Homo sapiens: one gene and its partners. The protein of the gene in region 3 interacts with the protein of the main gene of each other region in a biochemical or structural test. Each region holds a gene or a part of one and is shown on either strand. Other genes may lie near its edges. The genes, in order: CTNND2, PPP1R9B, LRRC7 and CNKSR2.

Region 1 (7,600 bases), on a different chromosome or scaffold from region 3:
GGAGCCTTGGGCCTGGGAGTGAGGTGCAGGAACTGTCTCCCAAGGCCACTCTTTGAAAAAGGGATAGGTGTATTCTCAAACGATTTCAAAGGTCAGAAACAAGATCAGTGAAGGAACTTACAAAAGATGCAGATTTCTGTATCAATATAAACTAGTGCATAAGGCTTGGATTACTCAAAGAAAAATAAAATGGTTCAAGAGATGGTGAGGGGCCTGTTGCTCAAGGCATTCAAGCAGGGGCTGAATGGCAAGGTTTTGGGATTGCTATTAGCTCAACTGATAAACGACCTCCGGCACTCTTCAAACTCCAGAAGTCTTTAAGTTGTGAATCCAGTATTTCTCCCCTTGGATATTTCCTCAGTTAAATAAATAATTAGTGAGCATTTGAAGTTAAAAGCAAACTACCCAGAGATTCATCACCTGAGAGAATTGGACCCTGAAAAATATGATATGTGGTTTACTGCAAACATTTCAGCCATGTTATTTGAGTTACATGGTAACAAGTTACATAATACTGTTTAAACTTTAATATTTAAAAAATATTCTTCAAGTCTTCATCTTTTTAAAAGCATTTTTATGCCAGGCACTGTAGCTCATGCTTGCAACTCCAACCCTATGGGAGGCCAAGGCAGGAGGATCACTTGAGTCAGGGAGTTCAAGACCAGCCTGGGCAGCACAGCAAGACCCCTTCTCTAAAAAAAATAATAAAAACAATTTAACCAGGCTTGTGGCCAGCCTGTAGTCCCACCTACTTGGGAGGCTGAGGTGGGAGGATCATTTGAGCCTGGAAGTTTGAGCCTGCAATGAGCTAGGATCACACCACTGCACTCCAGCCTGGGTGACAGGGCAAAACCTTGTCTCAAAAAATAAAAGCATTTTTATAGTATATTTTGTTTCCTGAGCTTTCAATTCACTATATATGCATGCGCGTGGGTGTGTGTGTGTGTGTCCACATGTGCACATGCGTCGTGAACAGTTAAAAAAAGAAAAAGCAGCATTTGGAAAACATTCTTTACCAAGGTTTACCTAGTAGTAAAATATTTATAAGTAATATTCATTAATGAGATTTAACAATAAAGTGTCCAACAATAAGATAAATGTTGTTACTATTTCGAAACAGCACACAAAATATAGTGGAAATGTATACATAATTCCTTAAAAGTGCATATTGTCATACTCTTAGTCAAATTTTGCGGTTTGAAACGGAACAAATCCATGGAGTGAGTTTGATAGAGCCGACTGAAAGTGCAGCTGCTATAATTTGGGCCCAGCATCAGCATTAAAAATGTGCCATTGTATGTATTCCTGTTATGATGAATAACAAAATAGAAGATAGTGTTCTATTGCAAATCACATTCATAAAAAGTGAGATTCTTTAAGCATGTTTGAAAAACTGCTTTCGAGATAGTGTACACCAAGGATTACAACATCTCAAAAAGGGATTAATCAAACACGATTAAAAGTTGCTATTACTGCTACAATTTACACATTATGTCAGTAATATATCTTAACCATGACTTTTATTATTTGATAGACAAGACAGTTATAATACCCTTAGTATATCTGGGTATATCAGTCTTGCTGTGTTTTTTTCCATTTGTTTCATCATCAAATTTTCAAAATGAGAATGCTTTTGTGACTTATCACTACCAACATGACTGACACTTCTTTCATATAATTTAAGAGTTATATTTGACTTTCATGTTTAAAAACAACAGTATATAGAACTCAATAGCTGGTGTAGTACCTACAAATATATTAGCTATGATAACAATCCTTAAGAGATTCACATTTTATGGAAAATAACATACAATTACAAATAAAATCTTCTTAGCAAATGGGGCTGTAAAGGGAATTTTACAGGTTTAAAAATGATCTCAGTGACTGCTGGCTTTACAAAGAAAATTGGATAAGACATTTCTGTGGGTTTTCTGTTGGCATATAGGATGACTAGTCAAAAGAGAAAAGACCAAAGCTTTGCCACAATCCAAATGACTGAGCCAACCATCAACAAGAAAATCCCAACCCCTCAGAACCAATCCTTTTGTATCCTATGACTTAGAGTCACAGAAAGTCAATATGGCTTCTCTGGTTTCAAGTCTAATGATGAAGTGGAACTGCCATGACTTCAAATTATTATTTCAAAATGCAGTATTTGCTTAAACACTTCTCACTGAATAATACTAAAACTCTCTAACAGAGAAGAGATACTGGTCTACAATAAGAAAAATAAGGTAGATGCCGGAAATGAAAAATATAACAAAGACCACACATCCAATAAGCAATCGATCAGGGATGCCAGAACTACTTAGACAATTTCCTTCATTCTTCCCAACTCCTACACAGATACTGGTACTGCCATTCATCCTCTGAAAAAAAATCATAAATATACTCTTTCTTTTTCCTTTTTCTTTTTTGTAAAGAAATAAAAATGTTCGTGCCAACATGTGCTGCAGTATGGATTCAATATGTGCTAACAATGTAGATGTAGGTCCGCACACTCACCTGGCACCAATGCATTTTCAAGAAGTCATTTAACATTCTGATTCTGCATTTATTTAAGGCATTAAATATGGGATATCAGTTTCTGCTCACAAAGGAGGATTACATCAAAGATGTAAGTAAGCCTACTTTGAAGATTGTAATGTGCTATAAACATATGTTTATAATGATAAAGAGGCTTACATAGCCTGGTGTTTGGCAGTAAATAAAATGTTAACAAATTCTCTTAAATATATGTAAATATATTTCAAAAGCTTGAAAACATTGAAAAGATTTAAATAATAAGCCATAACGCCAAAATAAATAAGTGTGAGCCCTAGAAGTTAAACATATTAGTTCTGGTAATATTCACCTATGAGGAATCAAATTATAATATTTAAGGGAAAATGCAAAAATCTTGTCTTAAAAGAATTACTATATTTTGGACCTGAAGTTTAAATTTGGCACGTCTCTCCATTAAATAAAAACATGTTGCCGGGCGCGGTGGCTCACGCCTGTAATCCCAGCACTTTGGGAGGCCGAGGCGGGTGGATCACGAGGTCAGGAGATCGAGACCACGGTGAAACCCCGTCTCTACTAAAAATACAAAAAATTAGCCGGGCGCGGTGGCGGGCGCCTGTAGTCCCAGCTACTCGGGAGGCTGAGGCAGGAGAATGGTGTGAACCCGGAAGGCGGAGCTTGCAGTGAGCGGAGATCGCGCCACAGCACTCCAGCCTGGGCGACAAAACGAGACTCCGTCTCAAAAAAAAAAAAAACATGTTGAGACATTCCTTAATTTTAAGAAAACCCGACAAGAAAGGTATTATATTACTACACTTTATGCTCCATACATTTTGCATGATGCCAGATAATGAATCCCTTTTATAATAAACCACAATAGTCCAGTTCTGGTTCTAGATTTGTTTTTTCTTTTCTTTTCTTTTTTTTGGGGGGTCTGTGGGTCTGAGCTCAGGATGAACTTATAATTCATATAGCACTAATCTGCATACAAATTTGACGCATACAAAAGCTTAGTGGTCAATATTCTCTTATTCATTCTAACCCTTCTTATTGGTGTTTTTCTTTTTTGGTTTATAGCAGGCACTCAATAAATATAAGTGACATAATCCATAACTTGAAAAGGTAAGAGCTGTGTCAATATATTGAGAGAAGAAAAAAGGCTGTAAAAATGACAGTAACATAAAATGGAAAGGATACGCCATTTAATAAAATAAAATGCATTTAATACACAGTATTAAATACAGAAGCTATGCTACAGCTAGAGAAATATAATTTGGTTTCTTATTAAGCTAAATTCCTAATATGAAAATTTAAAGTATTTCCATCAGAGATAAAATGTTTATTGTCAATTTAAACCTCCTATGTTAAATATAAACAATGTCAAATCACATATTTTTGTCTTTTAGCATTTCTTAAGGGTTCACTATTACGCTATTTCTACACATTTTCAGTAGCATATCAAGAAAGATTATTTTAAAATAGGGAATATGTTGAGGTATTTTCTGATGAATACGCTTGCCATACATGCCAAGAATACTTAAGGATCTGGGGCAGGTTTCAGGACCAAGACTATAAAGAGTGCTGTTGAGACTGAAAATCTAGATAACCAGTACACTGAACATAGTAAACAAAAGAATGCTTCCGATTTCTGGTAGATAACAGTAAGCACTTATTACAATTCACTTTTTCAATGGTGTTATACCAAATACAATATTTAACATGGACCTTCCAAGCAGGTTTGAATTGTGCTAAAGTAGCTATCTCAACGTAAACCATAAAATGATCCCATTCTGCCTTTTATATTTGCAGAAGTGATTTCTTTTTGCAAAAAAATCTATTCCAACCCCTCAATACAGTACACAGGAACTTGCGTGCTCCATCAGTGAAAATTCCTTGAGATGAATTTTAAGTACAAGACCAGAGTCAAGCCACCTGCCCTGCCATAAAGAAATATCAGCAATCTGACATATCAACAGTATTCACAGATGCAGATATATATATTTATGGGACTCTATCAGCATAAATCCAATGGCTATGAATAAAACATCCTTTAACTCTACAGGGACTCAAATCCAACTTTACAAGCAGAGCATTGCTAAACCCCTTGCCACTGATGGAAAAAAGAAAGAAAGAAAGAAAAAACAGCAACAACAACCACAAAAAAAAACCTCCATAACAACAATTTCTCTAATATATTATGCTCACATTTTTATCAGTCTTTAAACAACTTCATCCTAATGTTTATTTTCAGACATAGAGAAATGAAGGCCATGTAAAATTTCTAAATTTTCAATTTTACTATAGCTTGGAAGGTGTACCCCTTTGCAATCTGATAAATAGAAATACGCATGATGACAAAGCATACTTCCACTGAGACAATAAAATATGTAGGCCATGATATCTGAAGTCAAATGACATAGCCTCCAGTCCCCAGTTTCCCCTGTATTAAAGACGGCTGTTTACATCTCATCAAGTAGCTAAACATCAAGCACATATAGATACTCTGATCAAAAGATCATCTCTGTTTTTGGTGATGAACCACCAAAGATACTAGGGATCCATTGCAAGCACACACATTCCAAGTCAAACAAAAGAAAACCCAAGAAAAGCCAACCCTTTAATAGTCAGTGACATAAATGCAACATGACGTGAAATAAATTACAGTACCAGGTTACAAAACCTCTTTAGACATCATAGGGAAAGAAAAAGGTTTTTACCCACCTGGGATCTTTCTGAATGCTATCAATGGACGGGGACCTGGCCAAGGTGCCTTCAGGCGGGAGAGCAGGGCCGGATTTGCTGTATGGAGACTCAACAGAGGGACAATACTGCAGCTGTCGGTAGGGGTCCGCGTAATTGGAGGCTGGGCCGGCGGCATAGCTGGCCCTCTGGAAGGTGGCCGCGGCGGCATTCTGTGGGCCGTGCTGGCTGCCTGTGCGCTGCAAGGGGACGGAGTCGACACCAGGGGAAGATGGGGCTACGACAGGAAAGTAGGGACAAAGTAAAAAATTGAGGACCTGCTCACAGAAATGGTTAACCAGGTCTAGGCAGGGGCAGGGGAAGTTACACACATAAAAAATAGGGGGTTCAAAAGAATAAAAAAAATTAATCCATCATATTTGAACCAATACATTCAATGTTATCCAGTCAAATGATAATTAGCATGCCTAAGAGACAAACCTTTCAGGTATGGGGGGAATGCATCTGTTGTGTGTATATCGCTTACCTACATCCAACAGAAGGTGTGTTCAGCTGCAATATAAACTTTGTGCATAAGAAGAAATATAGAGAATACTTTCTAAGGAGGCATGGGAAGTTAATTCTTCATTTTCAAGTTGAGAAGATTCAGAATGTGTTCCGGTAATGTTATATTAACTTTATTAAAGATGTAAAATGAATTCAGTAATGTAATTAGTAATGTAGTTAATTTTCTTGAATCAAAGAAAATAAGAAGAAATGAGAGGGAGTGTATGCATGGGGGTGGAGGTGAGAAGAGGTGGGGTTCACATCTCCATAATTAGCACCAGAACATTCAATCCATGACTGCTCTAGTTTTTGTAAAGTAACTCCCGAAAGATTTTTATATGCCTCTTTTTCAAGTGAAGCTGTCACAGAAACAAACACATTTGGTGAAGGGAGAATAAGGCCAAAACCAACCCAACTGCAAGGCAGACAAAATAAGGAGCTGACTTAGCTTTTCTGAAAGTATTTGCATCTTCTCAATGTGTCTAAATTGTTTTGAGAAGATTTTACACTAGTTACTAAAATCAGTTTGACTATTTTGAAACTGAATTTCAATTTTTTGTTTCCCTCTTGGATTCTTTTTAGATCCTTTCATGTCATTATTTTTATCTGGTTCTCAAAATATATTTGACATCTAAGGTTTGGTTGATAGATACAATGAAAATAGCATCTTTCATTTCAGTAGAATATGACCAGTTATTAACTGCTTTAGACTGCTAGTCATGATCAACAGCAGACAGCCCACTTGCTTTCTGGTGCTGTAGAACAGACTTCATATCCAAAATACAGCCAGTGGCTAGATAGGACCATTTATGACATGGGTGCTCTATGGGAATTAGGTTCTAATTATCAATTATACATCTCTGACTTCCTAACCATTTCTTAGTGAACAATGATAGAGCTTATTTTATCCTCTTTTACATTAGGGGACATATACCAAATCAGACACAAAGGACATTATGTCATGCTGAGAAAATAATTATTAAAAGAGGTAAGGAAATTGTGTCGAAATGATGAAAATCTGCAAAGTGAATGGGAGGAATACACTCTAATACCGAGGATTGACTTAAGAGTTCAGGGCTCTTCTTTCCCAGTGAACTTTCAAGACTTCATCTTAGAATTACAAAAATTTAGGAAATTAGGTTCCGTGACATGACAAAAATGACAAAAATATTTAAGAGAAACTTTATAAACAAAAAGTGCATATATTCCCAGAGGGACAATATTTTGAAATAACGAAGGTTGTCCTGATGTGTTAAGTCTCAAAATAATCAGATTAGGCTAATAAACATTAACTGCACAATCAGAAAATCCGCTTTATGTCCTTATGCAAGTCCTTGAGGATTTATCGTTTCTCCAAAGTATTACCAGCATGTGTAATTAAAATCCACATTTTAAAATTTATGCATAATGTGCCTTATATTATGCTGAAAGGGGTTTAAAACAGGCAAGTCATAAACTTGCTCTTGGATGAACAAATGTACAGAGGTAAACAAAATTTCATTTTCTACAAGTTGTGATAAGCTAGCCAGAAAATCAAGGGCAAAAAAAAAAAAAAAAAAAGAAAAAAGAAAACTAAGTACATCTGGCATTTTTCATAGATGTGCATTTTTTTCCATTCAGAAAACTAAGTATCAACATTTAATCTTGCTGAAAATGGTTTTCAGGAAAGAAATAGTTTTCTATGCAAAATCATTTGCTATTAATGTATTCAATACAATGATTAAAGTGTCAGAGATCAGGAAATAATATTGAAATCTAAAGAAGTCTTTTTGTTAAGAAAACAACAGAGTAGGTAAGGAGAACAATTTGACTACCCACACAAAAAACTCTCAAAGGACCATGAATTAAAAGA
Region 2 (7,710 bases), on a different chromosome or scaffold from region 3:
CTGCTTCAGAGTCCCAAGAAACACTACAGTCCCCCATTCCCTTCAGAACCCCACTGCCTTCAGGAGGGGAAAGGGGTTGGGAGAGGACCCCGCAGGTCCCAGCCCAGGGGAGAGGCTGGCCTGAGAGCCACTCACTTTTAACCTTTCAGGCCTCTTGCTGGGGTGGGAGGTGGGAGAGGGGCAGAGGCTGACATTCTGGGCGAGTGAGAGGAAAGTTGGGAAGCTTCAGAGTCCAGGAGTAGTTATGGAAACGACAAGCAAACAGATGGTGCTTTGGCTAGGGAAGGGTAAAGGCAGGGCAGGGTCCAGGCCAAGGAGAGTCCAGGGACCTGGACACTTCCATGGGGCGGACCTGGGGCCGGGTGCAGCTGAGCCTGGGGCGGTGAGGAAGAACCCTGCAGGCTGAATGTGCTAGCCAAGAGTGGAGGGTGGTGGGAAGTGGGGGGAGGGGTGGCCTGGGGTTTTTGATTCCCCCCAGGGGATGTTCCCTCCCCATCAGGGCTGTTCTGAGGATCTCAAAGCTCTGGCACAACCCACAAACCAACCACCAATAGTGGCCGTGGGGATGAGACCCCCAAAAGGGGCAGCTCCCATCCCTCTTTCAGGGCTCCCAGAGAATGTGGCAAGAACACTTGGGGCCTGCCAAGGCCATGGGAGTCTGTCCTATTGAGCAGCCAAGAGTAAAGGCATGCCCACTACTGCCAGGCACCCAGGGGGATCCCAGCCCCACCTCCTCCTCCTCCATGCCTGCAGAAGGCCTCTCCCCATCAAGGACCACACAAAGTGCCCCTCCCTGTGCAAGGAGGACCGGGCAGCTGGCCTGCAGGGACCCCCAGGGAACACGGCGCCAGCCAGTCACATGGCCACAGACCAGCTCACCCTCACGATCTGCTTCCCTCTTTCACTTCTGCAAAGTTGGGGTGGGGGTACAAACAGAATAGAGGAAGGGCTGCCTGCGGTCCCCTGCAGCTTCGTTTTGAGAAGTTCCTGGCTTTCCCCTTTCTCACCTCATCCAGCTCCCATACAGGGGGAAAGCACCCCGGCCCCCTCTCTACCCAGTGAAGGGCAAATGTCTCTCCTGAAGACACACACACCCCTTCACACTACCCAACCCCAGCCTCTGGCAGCCTCTGGAGGAAGGAATGTCCGGGTGAGGAAGGGAAAGCAGGTGTCCCAGGACCCGCGTGGGGCAGGGCGGGTTCCGCGGAGCGGCGGGGCGGGGCAGCAGGCGGAGGAACCTGAGGGCAGGTCGGGGCAGGCCACCCCCCTCGCACACCTGAAAATCCCTCTCTGACAAACAGCTGGAACTCCCCCACGCCCCCCTGAGGGTGGGAACTTCTGGGAAGGGGGCTGGGTGGCAGGGGCTGACTCAGCCTGCCAAACCCGGCTGGCTGGCTGGCGAGCGGGGGCGGCCGCGTGCACGTGGCAGGGGCGGCGCGGGGGCAGGGCGGGGGGGCTCACTTACTTGGATGGGCGCCGTGCTGAAATGGATCTTCCGGCTCGGGGCTGGGTCCTCCTCCTCCGACAGCCCCGGGATCTCCACGCACCCCGACTCGGGCTCGTAGGGGGGCTCCCCATCCTCCTCGTCGTCTTCGTCGTCCTCCTCCAGGGCACTGCCCGCAGAGTCCTCCCCGAGCCCACTGTAGGCGCTCACGTCCACCAAGTCCGCCTCCGAGAAGTCCTCCTTCTTGGATTCATCTACCTCCTCAGGGGCCACGTCCGGGGCCCGGCCATTGCCCACCCCCCTCTCTGGCGGCGCTACCGCCGCCGCCTCCTTCTCCGGGGCCGCTTGGGCCTTTGGCTCCTCGGGCGCGGGGCTGGCTGCAGTTGCCACGGTGCTGCCATTCTCCAGGGCCGCGTGGACCGTAACCTCGGCCTGGATCACCTCCCCGGGCGCCGACTCGGCCTCCGACTCCCCGCTCTCCTCCACCTCCACCGGCTTAATCTTGCGCACCTCCCGGGGCTTGGGGGGCGGCCGGGCAGGGGCCACTCGGTGCTGCGGGGGCTGCTGCCCTGCGGGGCATCGCTCTTTCTCGGCCGGGGCATCCCCCGACGGGGCGGGCGGCGGCGGCGGCGGGGGCTGGAACACCCGGGACCGCTTGCTGACCAGCTTCGAGTTGACCTGGGGAACCCCTGCGGCCCTGGGGAGCCCGGGCCCGCGGTGGAGGCCGGTCCTCGAGTCGGCCTTCTCGAAGACGGCGCTGAGCTGGCTGACCGTGGGGGACACGGCGTCAGCGTCCAGCTTGTCCAGCGCCTCGGTGCTGCCGTTGAAGCGCACCACGACGTCCAGCTTCCGGTCCTGCAGGCCGGCGCGCTCCTGCCTCAGCAGCCGCCGCGCCGCGGCCTCCTTGTCGCCGCCTGCGGCCGCTGGGGCGCTCCGTTCGAACAGCTTCCGCGTCTCCTGCAGCCGGGACGGCGGGTGCGGCGGCGGCGCAGGCTGCGCGGAGGGCGCGGGCTTGGAGTCGAAGCGGCTCACGCGCTCCGACACGCTGGTGCCCAGCTTCAGCAGGGCGCTGTGGTCCACGTTCTCGTTCAGGCTGCTGGCCCGCGGCAGCGACAGGCGCACGCCGCGCTCGGACGCCCGTGGGGCCTCGGCCAGGCCCGCGCCGCCGCCCGCCTCGCCCGAGGGCCCCGCCGTCGTGCCCATCTGCAGGAACATACTTTTGATGCGGTGGACGTTGGAGCCATATTTCTTGTGGTGGGCCCCCTTGGGTGCCTCGTCGGGCCCGGGCGCGTCGGGCGGCTTCAGCGCCTGGATGCCCGCCTCGTAGGCGCTGCGGTGCGGGGAGGCGCTCCGGAGGGGACCCCCGGGCCCCCGTGGCTCCGTCTTCATCATGGTGGGGGGAGCCGGGTTCGCATGCCCCTGCTCCCCGCTCCCCCGCTTCAACAGGCGGCTGGCCAAGTCGGGACCACCGCCCCCTCCCCCCGATAAAAGAAACCCCGAAGGCCTTTTTTAGGGTCCCCCCAAAACCAAGCTGCCAAAAACAGTTAATCCCGCTTTAAAAAAAAAAATGAAAAAAAAAAAATCTCCAAGCGCCCTGTGTGTGGGTCGCCTCCCCCAATCAAGCTGCCGAAGACAGCCAGCCCCGCTTCAAAAGCCCGAGCGGCCTGGTACGGTCGCCCCCACCCAAATTAGCAAAGCGGCGTCTGGGGCCGGTGGGAGCGCGCGCCCTGCCCGCGAAGCAGCCGCGGTGTCGCCGGCTCACATCGTCCGAGACGGTGTCAGCGGGGCTGGCAGCCCGGGCGTCCCCCAGTCCGGCCGGAGGCCTCGGCTCTCGGGGGGCCCGGCACCCCAACGCCCATGGCTGCTCCGCCGGCCCGGGCCGCTCCGCCGCCGCGCCTCCCTCCCTCCCTCCCTCCCCCCCGTGCCCCGAGCCTCGGTCTTTCTCTGGCTTTGCCCGAGCGGCGGCTGCCGGAGACCGAGCGGCTGCCCTTCTCGCAGCCGCCGCTGGGGGACTGGCACCTCTGGGTCCTAAAGGGATCGGATTTCCGGGGCCGGAGCCTGTGAGCCCTCCCCTTCCCCTCCACCCGAACGGATCCCCTCCCCTCCCCAGCCCTCGCGGAGAGCCTTCCGCTGCCCCCGGACGTTGGCCAGCACTCTTCAACCTGCTTCCATCACAACTTCTGACTGCGGTCACAACCCACAGAACCGCACCTCCATGAAATATTGGGGGGAGGCAGTACATCCACGATGGTCTCAGTGTGAGGGGAGGGGGTTTGTAGGGAGGGGCAGAGGTTCATTCTTCAGTGTCCTCGGAGCTAGCTCTTCGGTGTGCTTCAAGCCTTTAGCATCAGAATCGCTGGGCACTTGGTAAAAATGCAGATTTCTGGGATCTCTCTCGAACCTTGTGAAGGAGAATCTCCGAGGCTGAACCCAGGAATCTGCATTTTAACACTTCACTACAGGCAATCTTTGGCCCCCTTGGAGGTGTGAAACCTTGGTCCAGCGCTGGTGACCTTTCGATGGTGGGGGAGGGGTGGTGAAGAAAGGAGGTGAACCCCGTCATCCAAGTAGCAGGGGATCACCAAAACTGCCGAAGTCTGGAAAGGATGTCCTGTCGCCTGTCTGCTGTGCACCCGTCTTCAGGCCCCTACCCTGGCACTCCTGCCTCTCAAACCGGAAGGAAGGGTTTGGGAGCAGGAATTCGAGAGGCCTGGGGCCAAAGTTTCGCCAGTGAGAGCTCTAACTTGGGTCTCTGATTTAAAGGATCCTGGCCACTGTGTTCCGGTTGGGGTGGGGGGGTGGGGAGGGTGACAGTGACTTACACATCCCCTGTCCTGGCAACCCAGAAAGCTGTTTGATGCCCTCTGCACCCCCCGCATACACAGCTAGGGTGCTGGCGCTGCCTGGGCCCTGGGTGTGAGAGTCCGCCCTCTGGACAGGTCCAGGTGAGCTGGTTCATTCCACACATCCCAGAAACTGGTGAACACAATGGGCCCTAGGACCCAGAGAACAACTCAGGCACAAAGCCTCCCCCCACTCCCAGCTGCTTCCTGCATCTCAGGCCTTTCTGCGGCCTCTGCCTCCTCCCCCGCCCTCTTCCCCTCCATCCTCTTCCTCCTTTTCCTAATCTCCCACTCTCTCCCCCCTGGCCTGGAAGGGCTGGCAAAGGGAGCCCTCCTACCACTCCACTGCAGGGGTGTGTGTGGGTTTTGTGGGATATTAACGCGTTACCATGTGCAAAAGAGCTTAGAGTACAGCGTGGGGGATGGGGTGTGGGGAAGCCGCCTGGGAACCCTGGATATTGGGATCGGGAGGGGCCAGGAACCGCAGGACTGATCCTGAGGCTGGTGCTAAGGAAGAGGGAAGATCTAGGTTGTGAGCTAGAGCCGGAAGTGAACCCAGACCTCACACTTTCCAAATGCCACCTGCATCTTTGCCCAGTTGCCCAGGAAACTTACCCCTCCCCAGTTTTGCACTTTGGGATGGTGCAGGGTGAAGAAGTCTGTCTCCTAACCCTTCTTAGAAGGCCTCTGTCAGGAGCAAGCTTTGGGACTTAGATTTCCAAACTCAAGATTGGGTCTTGAAAACCCCTCCCCACAGGCCCCCCAACCCCAATATAGAAGTCCGGAGAAGACAGAAACCTCACCCAGTTGGGGTTTGGAAGTTTGTACAATGTACTCAGAAGCTCTTGTGTGGATTGGAGGAGGGCGCAGGCCCCTGTGTTCTGCCCAGAATCTCCCACACCCTTGGTGGTAGATCATCTTAACTGGTCCCAGCCCAAGGGGTCTGTGCCCACGCGTCTGGCCAGGTGGGGAAGCCCCCAGTTTCTGAGGGTGGGAGAAGGAGCTGAGAACCAGCTACCAGGCCCAGAGACCCTCGGACTCCCAGCATTTCCGGTAGCAGCTTAGAGCAAACTGGAATTACAGGGGTGCTCTTGGGTCTCCCTTGTCCAAAGGATTATGAATCTCCGGACAAACCCCTTTAACAGACCCTTCTAGGGGGTTTGGGCTTCAAGAGGGTGGAGCTAGCCAGAGCTTGGGGGACTGAGGCTAATCAGTGGGATTATTATTTCATGGGCTCCTGGTTAGCAGAGCAACACCCTGGCCAGAATTCCCAAAGACGCTTTTATGGAGCGGTAAGTGCTTCACCATCACTTGTTCTCTGGTGTCAGGCACCAAGCCGGCTGGCCTGTGAGATGGGTGAAGAATGGGGTCTCATTCCCTCCATCCCTTCTCTGCCTGTCTGGAGCAGTAATCGCACCTGATAGGAACAAGGAGGGTTTGGGAGGGTTACCATCCAAACTGAAGGCTTTAAATAGAATTTTCATTCATTGGGCTGTCATCTTCACCTACATCCTCCAGTGAGGAAGCACTCCAGGATAATTTAACCACCCTTTCTCTTTCCTTTGTCTTCATGGAAGAGACTTTGATGGCCAAGTTGCCCAGTGGTCTTTGGATGGAAGTTCCTTCCTTACCTTTGCCTTGGCATAGAGTGGTTGACCTAGGAGCCAGGCTGCTAGGGTTCAAATCTTGGCTTCACTGCTTACTGGCTGTGTGACCTTGGACAAGTCACTTATCCTCCTCTGTGCCCTGGGAGGATGAAAGAAGGCCCAGAAAGGACGAGAGTGGCTCGGACACAGAAGATAGGGTGTGGGGGAGGAGACGCCTTTCCCAGCCTGTGCTAAAAAGGCCAGAGGCTGCGATAGGCAGAGATAATTCACCCCCAACTCTCCTCCTGGTAACCGCCCCCCTGCCACAGCTTTCCCACACCCCCCCAAATCTGCTTAGGGCCCTTGGGAAGATGCTCTGTTAGGACTCTTCCCCAAGGCTTGCTAGTTTTAAACACCAGGTGTAACTGCAAAGATAGTGATGAAGGCAGGGAGAGGCCTGACGAGCGATAAGTCCCGAGCCCTCAGCGCCCTGGGCGCAGGCCCGGGCTGGGTGCCAAGGCTGGCTTCTCTTTCCAGCCCTGGGGCCTTGAGACTCAGCTTCTAAAAGCGGTTTTTCCTTGGCCACGGTCATCTAAGCAGAGGCTGGCCCAGACCCTGCACTTGGATCCTTTTGTGGTGAGCCAGTGGTCCCCACCCAGTTGCTCTCCTTCAAGAGTTGACCTCTGCCAGGGATTTGGGCTGGTTATAGGATGCTGGAAAGGTATGCTGGAAAGGTGTGTGTACACCTCAAATCCAGGATGTCAGTGTTGGAGGGGCCTTTAGTGGCCCTTGGCTGACCTCTTCACAGGGAGAATGACGAAAGCTGAGAAGTGACATACCTAGTTTTAAAGGAAACAGACCAGGCTAGGGTTCATGAGGCCTGAATTGAGTCCTAGCTGCACTCATTTGCTGGATGACCGTGGGCTAGTCGTGTCCCCTCCCAAAGCCTGTTTCCTCAAAAAGCTTAGCTTGAGTGTCTGAGTGTTTCCTGAGCATAGATAACCCTAGGTGTCCCTCACTTTTGTGCATGCAGCACAGGCCTTGAAGCCAGGCCATCTCTGTTAGAATCTCCAACCTCCCACTCCCCAGCTAAGGGGCTTCAACAAATTCCTTCATCTATAAGATGAAGATAATATACCAACTTCATAGAGTTTTTGTGAGGAATAAATGGGTCCTCAATGCATAAGGCACTAAAAGGGGGCTCAGAGTGTTGGCTGTTACTGATTGCAGGGTATCCAAGCACATGTGGGGGTGTGTGCCTGCATGCACATGTGGGCAGGTGTGGCTGAGAATGAAACTCGGTGTTTGCATCTCTCTGTGTGTCTTCACAGGACTTTGGGGCTCTCATTTTCTTTAAGGTTCAATATGTGAAATTCTGAAATATAAACACCCCTTGCTTACAGCTTCTCCAAATCTTTGGGGGTCATTCTTGGGATGACCTCTCTTCTCTACTTCCCAAAGGGTTTTTCACTCCTGCCTGTGGGTGCCTCAAGCCCCTCATTGTCCCTGCAGGGAGAGGGGTCCCTTAGGGTCCTCTCACAGCTAGGAGACTGCCTTGCTGCTGGTTCCCTCTGCTGTACCCAGTTTCTTTCTATCACTCTCCACACTTGCTCCAGTGGCTCTTGGAAAGTTCAGATACATCTTGGAGACTAGGGAGGGAGACTTGGTAGGAGGAGTCAGGGTGTGTGTGTGTGTTGGGGGGCGGGGGAAGGGGTTGGACAGAGGAAAGATTTCTCCAAATCATCAGTTGCTTTAAAAGAAAGCCTATATTTAGCTGGGCTTAGAGGGCCTGTAAATATGTATTTTGCAAGGCAGACAGCCCGTAGCTGTGGGAGCT
Region 3 (7,543 bases):
TTCATCTTAAGGCTTGATAACAAAGGCTTACTGTTCCACTTAAAGGGATCAATCTGAGGGAAGAAGAGAAGTTAACCTTTAGTGACCCTTGAAAGCTTTAAAATAATTCTTTTGTGTTTTAGACACCTAAGAAAAATGTACGTACATCTGGTGGACTTGCATATCTTTAACACTTATCATGTACCTACATACAAGGAAAACATTAGTCTTTACTGTTAGCAAACACTCCACCACTGGGGGTTGCTTTGTGTTTAAGTACCTAATAGACCCACCAGAGTTCAGTAAGAAATGCAACTTGAACAGCCCCTGAGATAAAATTTTCTAGGAAGTATAAAAACTAAAGAATGCCTGGAACTATGCAGACATAGATCAAGTCTCATGCATGTCATTTAGACAGACAGCTGAAATGCTGACATGGCCTATCCAGCCAGAGCCTTCAATTAAGAGTTCTCCAATGTTGACAATTTCAGCTGCCCTAGCAGCCTCTCTAAGCACTAAGAAGTATAGCCATCTAAATCCTTACAACTTATTCTAAGGGAAGAATCTCTTTAGAGATTACATTACACCAGCAAGAGAATATTAATAGTCCATATGGCTTTATTTCCAACAAAATCCCAGAGTTTTTGCTTGCTCTTTGAGGTTAAAATCAAAGATTTTTCACTCAGGATTAGCCTAGATGTAGAACAGCGACTGTATAATAAAGTTGAGTTCAAAAAGTGTATGAATTCAGTTATGGTCTGGAAAATTAGCTGCCATTTTGTGATGAAGTGTTTGGTTTTTCCTTGTAGAAACTTAGTGTCATTGCGCATCAACTTAGAAAATGTGAATTGATTAAAAATATGTGATGGATTGTGCAGCATGCTTACATTTGAAAATGGAGATTGTGCCTTTAAATACTTAATCAAAGGACTCCTGACCTTCAAGTACCAGTTTGGGCATATTACTGGAGATCCAGGTTGAAAGGTATTGAAAAAAAAGCTCTGTATCTTTGTATATTCAGTTGTCAACATGGAGAAGCCACCTTTTAAAAAAGATCAGTTCTGTAAAGCATAATGCCTACTACACAGACATCATTATTCTACTTAAAAGTCTTTTTTTAAAATTCCAAATACTTGTGGTAGTAGAAAGCAATAAATATTCTAAAATGAGGGATATTGGTCCTTTTGTGACTGAGCTATATGATAAACTAAGGAAAACTACAGAAGTTATGTCTATTAACTCTTTAAGGTACATGATATAGCAAATAATCATTTGTACAACCTCATAGAAAGTTGAGAGGATTAATCAAATTGTTTCAAAATTTTTAAGGAGCCAAATTTAAATTCTCAATACCCTATGAGATTTTTTAAACTATTTTAGATTCTTACCAGAAGAATGCATAGATGTAGTAAAACCATTAAATACAGTAGTATCTGGTGGCCTTTCTGTGTGGAGGAGCTCGTTTGTCCAAGGTATGATCTACCAGTGAGAAGATCAGTGCCAGGTCACAGAAAAAGCTAATCATTTTTAGTTTAATCCTGACCAGCTAGTCTTCCTCCAGGCATCAGCTACCTGATTTTAAAGAGACCATATTAGAAATGAAAAGCAGCAGTCTCTATCATATGTTAAATTCAAAGGCATAGCTGCTCGTGAAGACCCTATTATGTTTTATTTGCCTATCGGAGAAAGAGATCTGCCTACCTGCCTTTAGGAAAAAGCAATGCTTTATGTAGCTTCAATTAGTCCTGCATCAGGTTATTCTAATGCTTCCTACTGCAAAAACCAAGCCCACAAGTCTCCAATCCTAAAAGTCACTAGAATATTGATATAAGGAATTCTGTGTCAGCAGTATCTCAGTATTCAAACCTCTGTTTAGGGTCCTGCATGTACTATCAAACAGCAAGTGATAGAACATTCAGGCGTTTTATTGGATTTCAGAATTCAGATTCAGAATTAAGTACTCTTGGGATAAAGGAAATTAACGAGCTTTTGACATTTCAAGAACTCATTGAGATTGTCAAAGGCTTCAGTAATGAACTCTAACAAATAGATCCAGAAGTCATAAGTGAGAAAGAAAACAAGCATGTCTAGTGAAATCTGTCCAGTGTACGTAACACTGCACAAAGAGCATATTTTATTCAGACCATTTGGATTCAGATGTACCCTAAAGACAACTATGCTATAATGGCTTGTCTCCTACTTCCTGGCCTCTAGCCCTACCCATTGCCCAGGTGGACGTTATGTTTTTAGTTTTTCCTTTGTGGGTGAGGGAAGAAGAGGACATCAGGTGAAGTGTGCCATTACTATTTGAAAACTAGCTCTGCAGGAAGGGTTAAATCAAATCCTTTACAGGGTGACCTTCCTACATCTCCTTAGAGCAACTGCATTTCAAAATAGGCCAAAGCTGAAGTCATAGGAATGAGACATTAATTGTAGGTTTTCAGGAAAGCTTCGGAGACACGGCAGGTACAGTCTCCTTAGAGCCTTTGAAAATACAACATGTAGGTCCTTCTCAGATTATGCTGAAACTCCAAATCCTTGTTAAAGGTTTTCCTGGACTCCTACAGTCTGGTTTGATCAGTTTATTATTAAGTACTGAATGACAGAGAAGGGTACACAGGGAGGACTTGTATCACATGAAGTAAAATAATTATTTCCTTAATGAGAAACTTAATTCTAGGGTACTTACAATAGCTGCCTTATTGGGGGAAGGGAGGCATAGATTTGCAAATGGTGGGTTTTTTCGTTTTTTTGTGTGTTGGAGTAATTGAAAAGATACATCAAGCAATAATAAACTAGATGTGCAATAATCTTGTCGAGTAGTATGTGCTGGTTTTGGAAAGGTGAAAAGAAAATTGTTACATCAGGCTGCTTTTATCAAGCTAAGCATGGGCATGCCTTTCCAAAGGGTATATTTGATCCTACAGTTAATTTTAACATTGGGCTGCAAGCTTAACCTCATCAGGAGTGGAATTAGATTTTACAAAGTTCCCCTTATCCAAACTACAGCACGCTTACTACTTTCTCCTTCCATTTTCCACACCTCAGCCCCCTAGGACCAGCTACTGGTAAGTCATTTTGTCCATTTTCATTGATCTGGCCACATAAGGAACATCCTGTTTCTTTAAATCCTCAATGCTTAAATTGCCATGTAGAAATCAACTCCCTATCAATTTTCTACATTTAATCCTTGGCTTCTTGTCATATTTTCATTTTTCTGCACTGGTTCCCATGGCAACAAGTCTGTTGGCAGAGAAAGTATGACTCTGCTTTTAGCCTTCTGCACAAGACAAAATCCTTCTGGTGATCCTCAGGCAAGTATAATATAAAAAGTCAGGAATTGACTACAGTTCCCTTGGCTAATGCCTCTAATCCTTTACTCTCTTGCATGCATTTTCCACCTTATTCCCAAACCAGGCTTGAGAAAAAAAGCATTCAAGGGCCCTGCCCAGTATCTCTTTACTGATACAAGTATTCAAAGGCCCTCCTATCCAATCACAGCCACAAAGACTGAATATTTTGGTTCAGATGGCTTTCCCTTCTCCCTAAGTGTCAGTGACTTAACTGACATAAATGCATAATTAATGACAAGGACCACTGGGAGCAGCATCGAGAAGCAACTTTCAGTCATTTTTCTATAAACAACTTTCCTCAGTTCGCAACTGAGGTGTAGCCCAGGGAATAAGTATGTCCTGAATTGAGCCTTAAATCAGTGACTAATAAGGCAATGGAACACTCAAGCAGATTTTCCTCTAATGAGTAGTTAAGTGGCACAGGAGGAGAGGCCAAGGAGTCATCCCAGAGTTCTAAGCTCATAAAGAGGAAGAGATAACAAAAGATGTAGATAAGAGGACATTGTTAACTGGTGGCTGCAAATGAGCAAGGGAGCTTCATTCAGTTGGGACAATTCAGGGTTCAGGTACGAAAAGGGTATGAAGCCTACTGAAAAATAAGGAAATGGAGCATGGAGAAAGAAAGGGTTTTTAAGAGTTAAGTCAGTAGAAAGGGAGCCTGCAAATGAGACAATAGCTTCATGCAGACTTTGGCCCAACTCTGTCTACAAATACTTTTGCAAATAATGTTTCTCTTAATAAAATGATATATTTTGTTTTGAACTTTGGAATTCCATTGTGGCTTGGCACTAAATTATAGGCCTAGCAATCCTAAATCTCCTATGTCCTCAATATCTAGAAACAAGCAGGAACTGTTTGTCAGAAATTAAACAGGACTTATTTGAATGTGCTTTAAAAAAAAAATCAATGAATTCAGGGGAATGAAAATACATGTTAGAAATTAAAATGTGGTTATCTCAGCTATAGTTAAGAAAATTATCAAATGTAAATGATCCCTTTTTTGCTGGATCTTATAAAATATGTGATACTTAAGTACACTGAAGTTTTAAAGTTAGCTGCTTATATTGTACAAAGATATTTTTGGCTCTTTAAAGGTTATTTTCCTATATTAAGAAAAGGTTTCTTATATTGAAAACTTTTATGGTGACTCAGGTTTTGTGTCTATGTATAGGCACACATAAATAGGAGGTGTTTTTCTTTGCACATTTGTTTTGCACAGCTAAAATAATGAGGTTAAATAATGCCCAGGTATGCAGGTCAATTGACCTTTTTAATAGCTTAACGAAAGCATTTGACAAATGGACAAAAGAAATCACATTGTATTTCTTTGTATCTCTCCATTCCTCTTACCCTTCCCCAACCCTCTACTAAAGAATATTTCTTATTTAGTCAGGAAATCTTATGTAATATTTTTGGACGGTCCATAGGAAAAGCAAGATGAAACTCTCAGGCAGACAACATAAAGCAGCTCCCATATCTGCTAGAAAGGTCATTAATTTTCAGAATATATTGTTGAAATAATTTTTATTTTCAATACTTGTAGTCTTTCCACTCAGAGGACTCTTATTTGGCTTGAATGTGGAAAAGGCATCTGGTTCAGGTCAGTAAGGACTGTTGTATGTAAGTTTTACTCTAGAAAATTTGGTTTTAGCTTTGATGACACCTAGCGTCAGTGGAATGCAATGAATGCTTAATACTTCGGCTTTATAATGTTTGGGCATTTCTCTTTAACATCCTCAAATACACTTTCATCCTTGAAAACACAAGCCTATTTTCTGTTTGAAATGAAGAGAAAGGTAATTGACAGATAAACAGATAGTTTTTGTTTGAAGAGCCAATCAAGTTTCTCTTTGTACTCAGTAGGGACTAAAGGAAGCTTAAGGATAATGACATTGTCTTCATATGAAGAAGAAATTTTTTACTAGTGGAAAATTAGAAGTAAATCTACCAAATTCTGTTTGTAAATTTTAAAGACCACCACAAAAGACCTTGAAAAAAGTGAAACTACTGCAAGATTACTGTTGCTTATTGAAAGTAATAATACAGTTTTATTTTTTCCACTTTATAACTGCCCAAGGGCTCCCCCAACCAGCTATATATAAGAAAACCATAACATGAACTAGGGTCTTTCTATTCAAAAAAGAAATATTAAACTAACATAAGCAATTCTGAAGGAAGACAGTGGTAGGTTTTCAGATGGTTTGTTAAGAATTATATGTAAAAGGATACTAGATATTATGTTTTGGATGTTTTCTAAGTATCTATGAAAATTATTTTTTCCTAAACGATTTCATAATTGATTACTTTTGACCTCAGTTATTTTGGGGCATAATCCTTTTACTACTCTATAAAGAAGTTCTACTTCTACCTATATGAATTTGTATTTTCCCATATGCCAAACACACACACATAAATTTTCTTTTTCTCATTTCAGCTCATATAATTCAGTTAGTGAAATATTTCACTCTTCTGTAAGTTTAAGAAAAATTCCTAAGCAGTGATACAACTTTGGGTCGCTATTTTAGTAAAATGAAGAGTCTCTAGACTTTTTTTTTTTTTTTAATGATCTCTGACTTCACTACCATATGTGCAGCACAACAGTGACATCTTAAGGCCAAGTAACCAGAGCTCCTTTAGCCAGAGAAAGAACTTGAATTGGGATCTGATTTCAAAGAAATCCCATTATATTATCAAGTCGTTTTCAAATTTACAATATTCGACTGGTAAAGAAAGTGCTTCTTTATGACTTCTTTTGCAGTCTTTGTGAACCTTTTAATGTGCAATAGTAAACATTGACATTTTACATAGACATATTGTATATTAATGCATGCATTTCACTGCATAGTTTATTGACACTACCCTTGTAAAGCTTTTATGGAAGAACCAACAAGCCACAGCAGTATAGCAAAAGAGGCTTAATCTTTATAAATTGGGGCCTTTTCTGTCTCTTTGCTAGCCTAGGTGGCTGTATACAAATTCGGGTGGGAGGGGGCAGGAAACACCTCTTCACATTTAAGGTTTTCTACTTGGGTGTACTCTAGCCAATTCAAAACAAATTGCTTACTTTAATAATACAATTTTACCATTTTATAAAAAAAATCAAATCACAACATGTTTAACTGAAATGGCTGTATTGTAATTAATATTTTGAGATAATTGTGATTTTGAGCTTAAATTATATATAAAAAATTGTCATTTTTGTATGTGTTAAAAAGACTACTATATCACAATTAAAAGTACTTTTTAGTTGAACTACATATTGATGTAAATAAAACTGAATGAAGACATATTTACTACTTTATTAACATAGATCGTGAATGTACTTACTGGTTTTTTTGCAGTATGAGACCATAACAACCTTGAAAGCTGCTTCATTTTATGTGCAAAGAAGTCCTATGAATCTATATTTTAAATTTACTGAACCAGTGAAATTAATTACTGTCAGTTAATTTGCAAATGCAAGCTGTATTCTCCAGTTTTATTTTATGTACTGACACTAATTGGTAAAGGTGTACAATGTGATTAGAATGCATTTTGAAGATGCTTTCTGTACAGATACAAAATACAGGGACTAAAATAATGCTGTGCAGTGTATAGCAGAGCCATTTTTCGGCTTTGGTGTACTCAACTTTTTCAGTATTTAAAAAAGTGTTTTGAATAACATAAAAGTCTCCTTATTGTATAAATAATAAAATGTCACCTTATTGTAAAGTGTCTTTTGTTTACTATCAAAGCAGACCTCGTAGTCAGCAACAGAGATGTAATAAGAAAAAGGCATGTTTTTGTTTTTATTTTTTATTTTTTTGAGATGGAGGAGTTTCACTCTTACCCAAGGCTGGAGTACAGAGTGGCGCGATCTCAGCACTCTGTCATCCTCTGCCTCCTGGGTTCAAGTGATTCTCCTGCCTCAGCCTCCCAAGATGCTGAGATTACAGGCACATGCACCATGCCCGGATAGTTTTTTTTGGTTTTGTTTTTTGTATTTTTAGTAGAGACGGGGGTTTCACCATGTTAGCCAGGCTGGTCTTGAACTCCTGACCTCAAGTGATCTGCCCGCCTCAGCCTCCCGAAGTGTTGGGATTACAGGCGTAAGCCACTGCCCCCAGCCAAAAAGGCATGTTTTTTTTAAAATGAAAACATAAACATTGTAATCAATATTTGAAAAATGTAACTTTTATTCTGAACATGTAGTATTTATCTTTATTAGCAAT
Region 4 (7,000 bases), on a different chromosome or scaffold from region 3:
ATAATTTAAATCTAACATTTTCATTTCATATTACAAGACTTTTATACTATTTTATGTGTTCCAAAACAAATGAAAGTCAACTAAACTTAAAAAAGTCTAAAAGTGTGTTTATGATATCCAAAATAGTACAATGTAATTAATAACAGAGAATGAATGAAGCGAGGCCAAGGAGACATACAAGGCATGCTATGAAGGTGTCAGTGTCTAATTACCTATTTAAAACAGTTTATAGAATCCCAATGGTCATTTCCTTAAGTACAACCAATTAATATGAATAAAGAACATCAGGACACAAAGCAGTATTATAATAAACAAAAATTTATAAATTTTATTATGACAGCCAAATAATGATTTTGCTTATAAAGCAGCAAGGTATTTTACAGTTGTCAGACTAATTATTGATTGGCTACTTAGTTGGACATCAAATTTTATAAAAGACTAATATCTATTTAATACCCCTATATTGTGGTAAATCATCATTAGACATTTATTACTTGGTACTCCTCTGCCTGTCCAATCCTTTCACAACAAAATGCAAAATAATGTTATATTCAAACTGGTGTCTGAGGAGAGGATACTTATGAAACATGCGGAAGACTTTACCTGTCCAACCAGGCAAGCAGACTCTTGGCTGCTCCAATCAGATCCACAACTGAGGTCAGAAAGTCGTTTGGCAATTTTCGGCTGGTCCTCCCATCATAATGGCCACTCCTTCTCCTTCCTGTTATAAAATTCTGCAGATTTTTGGCAGATGCATTCAACTTGTGAGAAAGGGTTTTTAGATTTTCTGTTTCCAAGCCATAATTCTGAATTATAAAAAAGAGAGAGAATATATTTAAAGTCAGTTTTATTCATTCATGAAAATATTTACTGAATACTTTATTATGCACAGGCAATGGGGTAGCATTCGAGTTACAAATGAATAAGATAGGATTCCTGACCTAGCGGAGCCCACAGTTAAGTGACTATTTGGGAAGATGTCATATAAAGAAATTATAATAAAATGTGTTAAGTACTAATATGAACATGGAAAGATAAGGGCATTGTATCTTAGAACTATGCTACCCAAGAAAGCAAGATTGTAAGAAATAATAAATTTGTTTTTTAAAACCAAAACCTAAGTTTATTTACTTGTGAAATTAATTATTATCAACAATTATTTTTGAGTAGATATTCTATTAACAATACACATGGTCAGGAATGTAGGTACTAGGGATAATTCTGCTTCCCCAAAGTTAGGAAAATAAACACAACCAACAATAATAAAATGAAAAAGCAAGAAATAAATCAGGTAAATAAATCAGATAAAAAAATACGTACTCTACATAATGATGTATAAGAAGTTTCTTTTATAATATGGTATCAGGAAAAACTCTGCTTCCTCAGGGGAACTAATATACTTTCTCCTTTTTGTAATACAAATTATGAAACTAAAATTATTTTTGTTTTTGTCCTGGCTGTATTAGCTCACAACTAAATATGAAGCACACCAAAAGCAATCACAGTGACTTTTTGGTAAGTGTATTTGTTTTCTTCTTTTCTTTGTTCTCACATTTCAACTAATATTTGTTAATTCATCCTAAATATCTTATCTATTATACTTTATAGCAGAAACGGGTTATATGAATAAGTGTAATAAGCCTTTTTACTATCTTCAAATAGAAAAAGATTGTAGGATCCCTTCAAACTTTGGGGAAAGTTTTCAAAAGTTACAATTAAAATGTAAAGCAGCTAATTGTGTGTTGTAAAACACCCCTTAAAAAGGCTGGTTAATATTATCCAAGGATAACCTTGATTAAAACACTTAGCAGCATGCACATTACTGTTGTGTGTAAAGTTAAAGTTATTACCACCTTACTTAAAATGGCAAAACCCAAAGAATGTAAGAATTTGCTTGGGCCTGGGAGGCTAAGTTTGACTTACCTTTTCACAGTTGGGGAAACTGAGGTATGGGAAGATTTCTTTTTTAACAGTTTGCTTAAAAAACTCTGTACTTGGACTAGACAGAGTTCAGAATGGAACTACAAGTCACCAGGCCATCTGTGAGCGGATATGTCTACCACATTCCTTAGCACCAATATTCTACTCCTATTCTCAGAAACATGGTAACAATAATTAAGTCAAAGTGGAAGATGAAGGGTGAAAAAGGAAAGTAAGCCATACAATGAATTAAGCTATGTTATTAAGTCAACAATCACTGGGTACCTACTTTGTATATAACATTTAGGTGTCTTTTTTTCCTATGACAATTTAAGACAAGAGAAAACTTAGTGGAGACAAAATGAGGGGAGAGGAAGGTTTTGATGCCTAAACATTAAATACCAAGTTATGTATGTTACCACTACAGATTTAATCGTGATAAAAGTCTGCTTGTCTTTTGCTGGGAATTTACATATTTATTAAAAGAACACTTTCTTCTAAAGTTATAAATTTGTTTTCTAAAATAACATAGTATTAATATGTTAAATATTCACTGCTTAATTTGAACTGTAATATTCTTCTCTCATGTTAAAAGATTTGCTTGGGCAAATAAAACAACATTCTATTCAAATTCTATTGCATTTAAGAATGGATTATTTGTGAAATGTGGGAGAGTTTGTCCAGCCGGTCACTACAGTATGAAAGAAATCCTCTTATGTTTATAAAAGATGCTCTCTAATGACTAGATAAGAACAATTTATAACTATACAAACTAACTGTAAATGATATTTCTTCTGTAAATGTAATTGTAAATGAAAATACTGAAAAGCAAAGTATTTTCAGAAGTTTTCCCTGTGTTAAAGCATTTTTCTAAAGTAAAAAATGATTGTATTTTTCATTTTTGTGTATAAATGAGTTTAATAAGAAAACATTTGTTTGCCAACAAATTATAGTAATCTCTTAGAGAAGTTCAAATTATAACAATTTATTAGCGAGAAACCTACTCAACTTGGTAACTGATATTTCACTCTGTAGCTATTAGCCTCCATAAAAGATTATTTTAAATTGTTTATCTCTATATAACACTAGCATCTCAAATGATTTATTAGGAAAGGTAAAATAATATTAATCTTCTTATAAGTAAAAATCCAAAGGCAAAGTAAAAATATTCCAGAGTCTTCAAAATTTAAGAAACTAAAATTATTATTTTTCATATGACTCAAGAATTAGGGAATATAATAATCATCCGGACAAAACCTGGAAGGATACTCTCAGAGGTTCTAACTTGGAAACCTCCTAAAAATATATTACGCAGAATAGAGGTGAAAAATGTAGAGGACAGAGAAATGCAGAGGAAAAAAGAATCTTTAAAAGATATGTAGCAGAGGATGGGGAAGGAAATTGTTAAAACTTGCTCTAGTTAATGAACATAACTACACTGATAATCTAAAAACATGTTTTAAAAATTTAGAAGAGTATAATAGGTAAGAAGCTCATCTGTATGTAACCAGATTTATGTGCTACTATTTTAACAAAAGAGATTAATTGATCTCTCAAGTTAACTTTTTAATTTTTAAAATTTATTTTATTTTATTTTTTTGATACAGGGTCTCGTTCTGTCACCCAGGATGGAGTGCAGTGGCATTATCACAGCTCACTGCAGCCTGGACTTCCTGGGTTCAAGCGATCCTTCCACCTCAGCCTTCTAAGTACCTGGTACTACAGGTGTATGCCAGCACACCTGGCTAATTTTTAAATTTTTTGTAGAGATGTGGTCTTGCTACATTGCCCAGGCTGGTCTTGAACTCCTAGGCTCAAGTGATCTGCCCTCCTCAGGCTCCCAAAGTGCTGGAATTACAGGCATGCCACCATGCCCAGCCTCAGGTTAATTTTTATAATTACAATTCTCAATTACTACCAATACAGATACCTTCTGGCTATTTCTTTCATGTAAGTGGATGGTTTGTTGTGACATGGTAAGTCACCAGTAAATCACACACCCTTACCTACCATTTAAAGAACTGACAAGTATATCAAGCACCTTTTGTGTTAGGCCAGGGGTACGGAGGGCACTGCCTCAACTTTTTAAAAATGCAGGTTTATTCACCACAGATTTGCTTTTTATTGGATATGCATAGCAAAACTTGGTATTACTATTAGTATAAAAAGGACTACCTCAAGAAAACAAAAACTTATACATGAAATGTACTTAGCTGCTGTGTTTGTCATATATGTTACTTATTTGTTCATATACTTGGCCATTACCATGTGCCAGAACCAGTAATGACTTAGAACTGATTCAACACAGCCATTTAAGTCTTAATGAATTTATGCTAAGTTCATATCAGCCTTCTCTTTCAATCATATGCATGCAAAAGCATTTGAAAGAAATAAAGAAATGTATTTAACATTTTAGAAAAATAAGGTCAGCTATATCCTCACTAGTGGCAAATTTTCACTAACCACTTAACTAGAAATACTTAATATTGGCAACAACAGATTTTACAATGTCAATGCCATTTTATTCAGAGTTCTTAATTTGAATGCATCGTGTAGCACCTTTTTAGCTTTATAATACATTGCTTTATAAATATGAGTGAGTCCTAAAAGGCTTGCTTTAATGAATTTTTTTGGAAAATAAATTATTTTAAGATGAATGAACCAAGCAATTATGTTGCAAAGAAACAAATCCCAGCAATTGCAAACATCAAATCTTTCATGCAAAATGCCTGAAATTATAAGTACATGAAAAATGAAATGAAAACTGTTCTTATCCTGTCATAAATGATTTATTTACAGTTCCTAATAAAAAGTGTATTGTCAGAACACAAATTAAGGACCATACGTTAAGCTATATATATATTTTTATTTACATTTTTACTCTTTCAGTTAATATCTTTGCTCTCTATTAAAGCATACTAAATTATAGCTTAATAGCTTGAAATATTATTACACCTCCAAATCATGAACAGCTTACTTCTTTCTAGAATAACATGATGCAAACAATATATCTGATGCTTAATAAATATATGTTGCATGAATAAACAAGTGACTAAATAAACCTTTGATTCTCATCAGCTGCCATAAACATTTATTCACATAAGGAATAACTTCAAGACAAGGTAGACGAAAATATAGTATAGCTTAAAGAAACAAAAGGAATCTGCTAATTTTTCTATGTCTTCCTTTATATGAGGAACAGAAACTTCAAAGTCAAAGGCTATGCAGGTAAGAGAAAAATTATGCTTCTCTGAAGAAAGACAGAGAGTTTAATTCAGTAAGATAACATTAATTTAGCATCTTTTATGAGCTAAGCACTGGGCAGAAAGCTGAATAAAAAATATGAACTAAACAAAGATGTCTTCCTTTGAGGAGCCCAACATGAATTAAAGGATAAAAGAACCTAAGCAAAGAATTGTAATACAAGGTGTTAAGTTCCCTTTTTTCCCATCACTTCCCATTCTGCACAAGCTAAATGAAAATTCTCAATTTTCTCTGAATATTCCATATTCTTTCACAATTCTGTCTTTACACATGATATTTCTTCTGCCTAGATAACTTTTCTCCAACTTTTTGTCTGGCAAACATCTCATCATCCTGCAAGACCAAATGCATATCTTACCTACACTTCCTGAATCCCTCAGAAGTGTTCATTTCCTTCTACACTCCCCTGGAATTTTCTTTAAATCTATGTTGTCTTCTGATGGCTATTGTCTTTCTTAATGGACTGTATATGTTTCAGGAGTACAGACTGTCTTTTTCATCTTTGCATTCCCCGTGATAGCACTGTTTGAGCATGAATATGTAATTGTTGAAAAAGAAATGAATACAGTAGACATAAGGAAAATGTAGAAAGGCCAGTAAAGATCAGAGAGACAAGACTTAGCAGGGTAAACGGAAATTCAAAGAGTAGTTGGGGATAGAGGGGAAGGAGGTAAAGATATAGTCCCAATAGCACAACTTCCTGGACTAGTCAACTCAGCTTGTTGATAAGGAATCTCACCTCCTGATTTCATAATGGTATGTAGAAGAAAATTAGAATTCACTACCCAGAAATTTGCTTTATATTCCCCAGAAAGCATCTGTTGCATAAACTGAAATACATCTGTACTTCTGACTTGTTGATGTATATCCACTACATTAGGAAGGGGTAAGAAGGAAGTTTAACATTTGACCTCTTTGGGGACTGCGACTAAGGAATTGCTGAATAAACAGAAAAAAAAATGGTGTTTAAATTTATTTTCCGCATTAACTTCCAGAAGAGCTCAATCACATAATGAACTATCCAAATGACATGACTTAAACCTGGTGCTTAAACCCAGAACTGTACAGGGATTAAAGCTCAGCATCAGAAAGGATTCACCACAGCTACATGGTTCAAACTTAGAAGTGGTCTAGACATCTATTTCTGATGCCATCCTTTTAAGTAGGTTTAGGTCGGCAGAGCCTTGTTCATGGGTCAAACTTCAAACGTCTAGACTGTATGTATGTAACACTGTCAATCAATATTCTTTCCTTTCTCAACTGGCAGTGTGAGAGCCTAGCACATGAGTGGTTCATCTATGAAGAGCCCTGCTTATGAGACATACACTCTGGACTTAAGGTTCTGATATACCCAAGTCTTACTGTTATAAAAGATGTTACAAACAGGGAACTGTTATTTGGCACTAATATAATAAATTTAAGGAAGGAAGAAAATATCAGGTCCAGCTGGTTGAGAATCAGAGTTTTTTTCTTCTATTTGCATTTCGATTATCAAAAGAGGAGAAGAAAAAAGGGAAAAGCAACAAAAGAAGAAAAAGAGAAGTTTCCCTCTTCACCAGTTTTATGTCCTTACCAATGCACACAGAAGGTCAACTGCTTCCAAGATCAGTTCCTGATGGCCAATGCGGCTGACCCCCAGATCTTCTAGCTCCTGATGTGTAATGCGCAGCAGCTGGTCCCCACTGATCTTCTCCCTCTCAAAGTTCTTAATATACTGCTGCAAACAGTCATCAAGACCTACAAAATAAAAGTATGAAAGACCAGAATGAAAACATGGTCAAACCAAATAAATGTGAAGGGTGGGTTAGAAGCAAGC

Evidence for each region.
Region 1: the proteins of LRRC7 (region 3) and CTNND2 form a complex in vitro, tested with the Homo sapiens proteins (one study listed by BioGRID).
Region 2: the proteins of LRRC7 (region 3) and PPP1R9B form a complex in vitro, tested with the Homo sapiens proteins (one study listed by BioGRID).
Region 4: the proteins of LRRC7 (region 3) and CNKSR2 form a complex in vitro, tested with the Homo sapiens proteins (one study listed by BioGRID).

What each region holds. Positions count from the first base shown.
Region 1 is NC_000005.10:11,341,149-11,348,748, forward strand, and holds part of CTNND2 (catenin delta-2), read right to left. Parts: intron 5,480-7,600; coding exon 5,224-5,479; intron 1-5,223. UniProt on the Homo sapiens protein: Has a critical role in neuronal development, particularly in the formation and/or maintenance of dendritic spines and synapses. Involved in the regulation of Wnt signaling.
Region 2 is NC_000017.11:50,147,678-50,155,387, forward strand, and holds the start of PPP1R9B (neurabin-2), read right to left. Parts: upstream 3,001-7,710; 5' UTR 2,837-3,000; coding exon 1,466-2,836; intron 1,151-1,465; exon of another isoform or gene 1,058-1,150; intron 1-1,057. UniProt on the Homo sapiens protein: Seems to act as a scaffold protein in multiple signaling pathways. Modulates excitatory synaptic transmission and dendritic spine morphology. Binds to actin filaments (F-actin) and shows cross-linking activity. Binds along the sides of the F-actin.
Region 3 is NC_000001.11:70,137,322-70,144,864, forward strand, and holds the end of LRRC7 (leucine-rich repeat-containing protein 7), read left to right. Parts: 3' UTR 1-7,043; downstream 7,044-7,543.
Region 4 is NC_000023.11:21,426,418-21,433,417, reverse strand, and holds part of CNKSR2 (connector enhancer of kinase suppressor of ras 2), read right to left. Parts: intron 6,922-7,000; coding exon 6,758-6,921; intron 807-6,757; coding exon 604-806; intron 1-603.